Linked DNA regions of Homo sapiens: region 2 is linked to region 1. Evidence: fine-mapped expression QTL. A gene starts in region 1. The other region holds a variant in brackets. All regions are shown on one strand. Distances are from middle to middle.

Evidence for each region. PIP is the estimated chance that this variant, and not a neighbour inherited with it, causes the effect.
Region 2: its variant is the best candidate, but not a certain one, in a credible set for the expression of S100A3 in esophagus mucosa (GTEx, PIP 0.78).

Annotation. Positions count from the first base shown.
Region 1 is chr1:153,547,110-153,551,492 of GRCh38, forward strand. S100A3 (S100 calcium binding protein A3) reads right to left here and starts at 2,149. Exons shown (of 3, transcript NM_002960.2): 1 at 2,072-2,149; 2 at 1,236-1,381; 3 at 220-737. The coding sequence starts at 1,376. The coding sequence ends at 573. It overlaps LOC101928034 (a long non-coding RNA gene), which reads left to right. Exons shown (of 3, transcript NR_125947.1): 2 at 1,312-2,006; 3 at 4,134-4,383. RefSeq lists enhancers at 1,676-2,237, 2,801-3,362 and a silencer at 2,204-2,498.
Region 2 is chr1:153,501,717-153,506,099 of GRCh38, forward strand. No RefSeq gene overlaps it. Among named protein-coding and RNA genes, the nearest start is that of S100A6, 32 kb to the right of the region's middle. The variant G/A (reference allele first, on the strand shown) is at 1,780.

The DNA.
Region 1 (4,383 bases):
TCCCAAAGAAAGAGAGAGAGGAAGGGAGGACAGGGGTCCTTGTTTTGTCCCCACGCCCTCCTGCTGGACCCTGGAGGCCACTGCATTTCTGCAGGGTCTGCAACTTCCCTCAGGGAGCACCCTGCCCCTGCCCTCAGCTGCCTTCCCGCAGTGGAAAAGGCCAGAGAGGAGCAAAGAGCTCAGGAGACGCGTCCTCAGAGAAGAACCAAACAAAACCAAGCTGATGCCAGTTTTTTATTAGGAGTTAAATAGGCCCTTTCCCATCGTGGTCTCATTGGTGCACGCTCTGCTGAGCCTCGAGGGCCTCAGAGCAGATCCCGCCTCCTCCCATCCACAAGGGAGGCCACAGGGGTGCGGCAGGCAGGCTGGGCCCCAGAGTGGCTCTACCCCTCATTCGCTGGGCATCCTGAGGAAGGAGCCCTCACATCTCTGGGCCTCCTAGGTAAAATGGGTTAACTGATCGCAGAAGACCTGGGCAAGTCCAGATTGAAAGGGGTACAGGAGAGAGGGTAGGAGGGGGTGTGGGAGACATGCCCAGCCCCCGACAGCCAGCGCACCCCCTGGAGCAGAGGCTACTGGGAGCAGGGGGGCTCTGAGGGGCAGTCCTTGAAGTACTCGTGGCAGTAGAGACAGAGGCAGGCAAGTGAGCGCACATACTCCACAAAGTCCACCTCGCAGTCCTTGTTGGTGTCCAGAACACTCATGAATTTGTTGTAGTCACATTCCCGAAACTCAGTCTGTGCAAGGGAAGGGTTGGGAGAGGTAAGGGAGTAGGATGAGGAGGGCAGAACAGCCTCACACGCCACCTCCCTCCTTCCTCTCCCAAGTGGACCCACCCCACCCCAAACTACACCCTTCTGAGGGCCGACTTCAACCTCCCTGCTCTGATAATGCACTCGTTGCAATCCCCTCCCAAATCTGTCCTCTCAGATTATTAATCGAGCACCTACTATTTGCTACTGAGTGCCTACCAAGTGTTAGGCATTCTTCATGGTGCTCTCACTCAGTCCTCTCAACAGCTCTGCAAGGCAGCAGGGATGATTGTCATCCCATTTTACAGATGAGGAAGCTGAGGTTTCTGCTGTGTCAGTTCTCCCCCTCCCACTCCCTCCTCACAATCCAGCCCCCTCCCTTGCTGTCCTGTGCTCATGCTTGTTGTCCCCAGGTCTCTCTTTGCAGAGTCTAGGCAGTGCCTCCCCCCGGAGGAGGAGGGGACGGACACTCTGACTGCTCACCGGGGTCCAGGTGGCCAGCTCCTTCTGCAGCAGCTCCTTGAGCTCCGCCTGGCAGAGCTTGTATTTGTCCCCACAGCGCCCTGCGTATTCCTGGAAGGTGCACACGATGGCAGCTACCGCCTGCTCCAGAGGCCTGGCCATCCTCACTGTCACAGAACAAGGGTGTGGCTCACAGCAGAGTTCCAGGCCAGCCCCCCAGCTCACCTCTGCCCTCTGTGTTTCTCAGAGACTGTTCCCAGACCCATCTTAACCTCCATCAGGCTTCAGGCCCCGCAGTCTCCCCCTCCTCTGAGTAGCCCTCCCAGACCACACCAGCCCCTCCTAATTTATCCCCCTGCTGTCCTGTTGTTATTTCCCCATGTAGAGGTCTCATTGCCCCAACATCGCTGTAAACTCCTCAGAGAGACAGCATCCTACCCCACCACCCACACACCCCACCGTGGGGCTCCTTAAGCACTCTCAGATTATCTGCCACCTCTTCTTATCCCCAACACCCAGGGATGGCTCGGTCCCAGTCTGCCCCAGCCCATGAGATGCCCTAGAAGCCTCCCTCCCTGCAGGAACTTGCACAAGGAGAGCCTGGCCCTGTGCTTCTCTGCCCTCAGCCCTTGGAGAAGCTAGGCCTTAGCAGGGAGGGGCAGGTCTGAGAGGCGCCCCCACAGCCTCACCACCACTGCCCTCACCCTGCCTCCTGCCCTGAACTCGAGGAAGCTGCACCCAGAAGAAAAACTTGTGGGATCCTCTCTGCCTGTCGCCAGCTGTGCAACCTTGGTGAGCCATTTGTCTCTCTGGGTCTCAGGGGCGGGGCCTGATCTGTAAGTTGGGGTTCATCTCACCTCGCTGGCCCAGTCAGGAACCTGAACCAGATGGTCTCTTGAGAGTTGACCAGTTCGGGTGTTTACCAATCTGAGACTGGCCTCCCCTGAGGTTACCCTCCCGACCCCTGGGGGTTTTGAGCAGGGAGGTTCTGTATAGGGATACTCTGTTCTATTGGAGGGGAAGCCCTTCCTGGAATTGCTCACCTCCCCCCACTTCCACTGTCCCCTTCCACCGCCCTTCTGGGATGATGCCTCCAGCCTGGGAAAACCCGAAGGCAGCCAGGAAGGCAAGAGTTTTTTCCATGCTAGCCCAGTGACTCACTCCTGATTCCCCCACGGGACAAGAGTCCTGCAGCACAGGGCGGCCAGGGCCAAGACTCTCCCTGAAGATTTGCCCACTGCTGGGCCCCCTGCTGGGAGCAAATGGCTGGCATGGTTGTGGCTGGCAGGAAAGTAGGGGAAGGGGAGTGGGGAGTGCCAAGCACTGCCAGGATTTAATTCATTGTAAACACCCCAGGATTAGAGCAAGGTGTCCAGGTTCCCAGGAGAGGAAAGGGCCATGATCCTCAGAAATGAGGAGACTCAGAGGTGAAGCAAGGAGGCAAGGAGCAGGTGAGGGGCCTGATCAAGGGGAAGACCAGAGCCTTGAGCCCAGTGCTCCCACCCCAAGGCAGACCTTAGCTCTACACACCTCCCTGCCCAAACTTCCCCAACAGCCCCTCACTGTGTAAGGAAACCTCTGCGTCCACTATATCTGACTTCCCTCCCCGTGTCAGGCCCGCCTGTGGTCATCTCTCTGCTTCCAATGCCAGACCCTGGGTCAGGAGTCAGGCTGGCTACTGGGGGTCCCCAAACTGCCCTGACACTCAACCCAGGGCAGGACCCAAGCAGCTGGCACTCACCACTGGTGCTGGCGTTTCAGCTGTAGGAGCTTAGAGACAGGGCGTCACTATTTGTAGCCTCCCAAGAAAGGAAGGAAGCAATTATGGGGGACACAAGTAGGTCAACACTGAGGATGCCCTCAGGGATCCCTCAGCAGACCCATTACAGGCCCCACCTGCCCACCTATCCACGCACACATCAAAGGCCAGTCTGGGCTCAGACACCACTCCCCTTTCATTCCCCATCTGCCCTCCCCCAGAGTTGGGAACAGGGGACAGTCTCCTGCCAAGTCCTTCCAGCTCAGTTGGAGGAGACAGTCTGGCTTATCCATCACATCACAGCCCCATCTCTTCACTCTGCAGAGGCCCCCAGAATACCAAGTGGGGACACACTTCTGCCTCGCTCAGGTTGCACCCCTACAAATCTCTATTCCGGGTAGAACTTGGAGAGCACGTGGCTAAGCCTCCCCTTTACAGACGAGAAGTCTGAACTTGCCTGACCAGATCCCAGCTTTTGGCTGTGAACTGCTTGCTTCCCAGGGGGGAAATCATCAGGTGGGATGTCTTTGAGGCACAGGAAGGAGGTGTGTTCCTCCCAGGGGCACTTCCAGAGTCTAAGCTTGAGATTTCTGGCCCTTCCACCCCAGGTGATGGGAATGAATTTGGGCTAGAGTCACATGAAGGCTGGCCAGTGGCTGGAGCTCCTTAAGGGCTGTTTTCCTTCTTCCCCTGCTCTGCTCAGCACCAAAACAACTTTCCTTGAAGTCTTGTGGGTGGCAGGATGGGATTTCCTCTGGCTTTTAGCTTGAGTGTGTAGCCTTTTGGGGTCTCAGCATCATGGGAGGGTCATCCATTTGTGTCCCCTCTTGGGGTGAGAACTGGGCTTCCACTTCTGTCTTCCTCACTCCCCAAACCATCAGGATCAAAGCTCAGGTTCGGCTTGGCTTGGCCAATGACCTCAGGGCACGGGGGGCCCCAGTACAGATTCTGCTTTGACTTAGATTTTGGCCTACTCATTTCTTACTGCCTTGTGGTCTCTTCAATGCTTTGAAAAGATTTAATTCTATGCAGCATTTGTTGTTGTTTTTAAGCTGAAGTGGGCACAGACCACCATATTACCAGAAACAGACATACTTTCATGTAACTTCTCTATTCTCTCCCTCACACCAGAGCCTGAGAAACTCCTCCCTGTTTTATAGGAAGAGAACCCAAAACCTAGAAGAGCGTGAGAGGGAAAAGAGGAAGGAGATTGACTCCCAGGCCGGCAAAGAAGCCTTCCTGCCCGTGCAGGCAGCCAGAGCGCCAGTGACACCTTCGACCTCGCCCTCGGCCCCCAGCACCCAAGCCTTGCCTGTGCCGTCCTCTCCTTGGAGACTCAGCCCTGTTGAGGAGGGGAGTGAGCAATAGAGGAGGGAAGGAAAAGAGGAGCTGTGATTAGCCCTGTTTTAT
Region 2 (4,383 bases), 45 kb before region 1:
GAAGTAATTTACTTCAAGAAGAGAACATGATTCTTTACTTCAAGAAGAGAATATTAGGGACCTTTGTATATCTAGGGATATTTTTCTGGTGTCCTCACAGATGGCTAGCTGCTTAATTATGTTTATGCAATTCTGAGGCACAACCTTTTCTTTCCTCAAAAACTGAAGATTTTGCTTATTTGTAACTTCTAAGAAATATGAGATTCACTTGAATTGCTCTTTTATAGGCAATCTTTTTATTTTCCTTTGAGCAATACTTTTGCCTGAGAGTGTCTAGGCATATCTGTGTTTTTATACATTTTGCCTGGGTTGCAGAGAGCCCTTTTGGTCTACACAAAATCTATGTGGTAGATGCTACAGCTCTAGAGAAAGTTGGCATTTGTTGTGGCTATTTACCTGCTGTCCATGCCTGTTGTGACTGACATCCAGCAATGTTGATGGACACTGTTAGGAGCTACTCTTATTGTAACAATGAGGGTGCCATGCACCACTCCCAGTATTCTCTTTCTTCTCTCTTACGTCTACTTTCTGCCCAATGATCCTTTATTCTCTTGTTAGATACAGAAATATTGGGAAGACCAAGGAAGAGCTCAGGGCTCTGGCTGCCTTATAGTGATAGGCAGATAGGAAGGCAAACACTAACATTAAATTAAATTAAATTAAATTAAATTAAATTAAATTAAATTAAATTAAATTAAAATATAAAATAAAATAAGCCCTACAAGGAGTTGTCTGTTTGGTAGTAACCCTATGTAGCCAGGAAGCTCCATCTTGCCCAAGTTGGGGCAGGGGATGGAAGACTACCCCTTCCATGCACCACCACCTCCCTCGGTTTCCAGGCCCCACCACCCATGTGGGCCTTTGGTGGGTGGGATGGGAGGCTCAGTGAAGTGTCCAGGCCCTATGTTCCTCCTGCTGGCACTGATCAGTGCTGGGAGGGCCATCTCAGGGCTAGAACTGTTCTGTGAGCTCAGTGCTCTCAGCTCCTGCCCCCACCAGTCGTCCCATATGGATTGGCTGGGGTCATGGTAGGAAGCTTAGGGAACGCTTACATATGCTTCCAAATCTTTATTATCTTGCACCTCTACCCTGGCTTTTTAAAATGCAAGCACCAGGACGGGCACAGTGGCTCACATCTGTAATCTCAGCACTTTGGGAGGCCGAGGCAGGTGGATCATGAGGTCAGGAGTTCGAGACCAGCCTGGCCAACATGGTGAAACCCCGTCTCTACTAAAAATACAAAAATTAGCTGGGTGTGGTGGTGCGCACCTGCAATCCCAGCTACTCGGGAGGTTGAGGCAGAAGAATCGCTTGAACCTGGGAGGCAGAGGTTGCAGTGAGCCGAGATCATGCCACTGAACACCAGCCTGGATGACAGAGTGAGTCAGCTCCGTCTCAAAAATTTAAAAAAAAAAAAAATTCAAGCACCAAAAGTGTGACACCTGTTTTTTCTGGTTCTTCACTAACCGCATTCACTAAAGCTGCCAGTGACGCTGGTCCAGCTGCCTGGATGCAGGACGGGCTCCAGAAACCATTCAGTGAAGCCTGGTTGGGAGAGAAAACACAAAGGGATCCCCACACCCTGTCTCTGGGCCCTCCCAGGAGCAGACCCTGTAGGACAGCAGTTCTCAAAATGTGGTCCCCAGAACGGCAGCAACAACGGCACCTGGGATCTTACTAGAAATACAGAGTCTCAGGCCACCACAGACCTGCTTGTGTTAGGACCTCTGGGATAGGGGCCCAGAGATCTGTGTTCTAACAAGCCCTCCGGTGATCCCA[G/A]TGCCCACTCAAGTGTGCAAATTACTGCGCAGTTACCAGGTGTCCTCCCACACTTTCACGGGCTGTAGAAACTAGTCTAAGAGAGAACGGAGCGCAGAGCACTGACCCAGGGTCTTCATATTTCCTTGTGCTTGCTGTTTGTTGGGCTGGGTAGTGTAGACATTTTGCCTTACTCCCTACCTTCAGGAGCCATTTCACAAGAATATGATGGTGTCACGGTCTGTGGGCCAGGTGCCTTTTAAATTGGAAGCTCTCTTTTAAGACTCAAGGCAGCTTTATAGGATAGATAATTGTATCCCATTGCTATGGCTTGAATATTTGGCCTCCCTAAAACTCATGTTGAAATTTAATCTTCAGTGTGGCAGTACTGGGAGATGAGGCCTGCAAAAGGTGATTGGGTCATGAGGTCCCTAGCCCCACGAATCCACTAATCCATTCATTCATGGATAAATGGATTAACGGATTAATGGGTGATCATGGGAGTGGGATTGGTGGCTTTATAAGAGGAGGAAGAGAGACCTGAGCCAGCGCACTCAGCCCCAGCACCACTTGATGCTCTGTGCTGCCTCAGAACTCTGCAGGGAGTCCCCACCAGCAAGAAGACCCTCACCAGATGCAGCCCCTTGACCCTGGACTTCTCAGTCTCCAAAACTGTAAGAAATAAATTCCTTTTCTTTATAAATTACCCAGTTTCAGGTATTCTGAAGCACCAAAAAACAGACTAAAACACTAGTTTTTCAGCTGATGAAACTAAGTCTCACAGAAGTTAGCTGCTCTTTCTAAGTCAAAGTCTAACTCCCTGCTGCCTTCTGCAATGCCATACTGCCTCACAGTGGCACTGCCATCTCAGCCTGGCACCAGATCACCTGGGTTTGCAACTCAGCCCTGGCACCAGCCCTGAGGCATGGCCACAGCTTTTCACTTCCCTGAGCCTCTGTTTCCTTACCTGCAAAATAGGGGTAAACCCAACCTGCCCAACCCACCTACCTCCCAGAGTCATTTGCAGGGCCAAGTGGGAAAAATGATCTTAATACAGTATTAATCTTTCCATTTCCCCAGGTGTGTGTGTGTTGGTGGAAAGCAGTGGTACAAGTGTGGGCAGAGGACAGTGACTCGAATAGTGAGGCAGAGGAGAGTCACCAAGGGTACATGTTGCTATGACATAGTGTCAACGTGGGGGCTTCTGAAGGGATGTCTTAGTGTTTTAGATATTTTGAGGGGAAAAACTCCTCTACTAAGACTCACTTCAGAGAAAAAGAGAAGCTGACCAGGTGTGGTGGCTCACACCTGTAATCCCAGCACTTTGGGAGGCCGAGGTTTGTGGACATCACCTGAGGTCAGGACTTCAAGACCAGCCTGGCCAATATGGTGAAACCCCATCTCTACTAAAAATACAAAAATTAGCCAGGCATGGTGGTGTGAGCCTGTAATCCCAGCTATTCAGGAGGCTGAGACAGGAGAATCATTTGAACCCGGGAGGCAGAGGTTGCAGTGAGCCAAGATTACACCACTACACTCCAGCCTGGACGACAGAGTGAGACTCCATCCAAAAAAAAAAAAGAAAGAGAGAGAGAGAGAGGGAAGAGACAGAGAGGGAGAGAGAGAGGGAAGGAAGGAAGGAGAAAAAAGGAAAGAAAGGAAGAAAGAAAAAGAAAGAAAGGAAGAAAAGAAAGAGAGAGAAAGAAAGAAAGAGAAAGAGAGAGAGAAAGAAAGAAGAAAGAAAGAAAGAAAGAAAGAAAGAAAGAAAGAAAGAAAGAAAGAAAGAAAAGAAAGAAAGAAAGAAAGAAAGAAAGAAAGAAAGAAAAGAAAGAAGGAAAGAGAAAGAGAGAGAAGCTGGGTGCAATGATGCACATCTATAGTCCCAGCTTCTCAGGAGGCTGAGCTGGGAGGATCACCTGAGCACAAGAGTTCAAGACTGTATTGTGCTATGATCTCACCTATGGCTAGGCACTGTACTTCAGCCTAGGCAATACAGCAAGACCCTGTCCCTAAAAAAGAAAAATAAAATAAGAGAAAAGAGTTCACAGCACTGGATCATACAGGGGTAAATGCCAAAACTCATATAATGTCCCCTGGCTTCTAGATGCCATTGATGCTCCATCTCTCTTTCTTGGGAGATCTTGCACTCTCTTGCATGCTAGGAGGGCTTCTGTGTGAGACACAACTTTGGTCATTCACTGGTAGCAATCCAAAGGAGAGAGGACATTCTTTCCCTCACATCCTTCCCCCAGGAAGAGGCCATGATTGGCCCAATTTAGTGTAGTGCCCACCTCTTCAATAATCATTGTGGCCAGAGTGACATCATCACAAGAGCTAGATTTGAGGCTTGGAAAAAAGAGCCCTCTGATGGGTCATTTGTGTAAAGTTGGTACTTGTTGCAAAAGACCCAGAGAATGCCATTTCCTCAGAACATTCCAGAGGATGTCAGCCTGGGGGCTGTTTGCTGAACAGGCCCCCAAGTTTCCCCTCACGTTCTCAACTTTGTCTTATTGAAATTCCAGCATACCTACCTGACATGGTGTATTAGTCCGTTTTCATGCTGCTGACAAAGACATACCCAAGACTGGGAAGAAAAAGAGGTTTAATTGGACTTACAGTTCCACA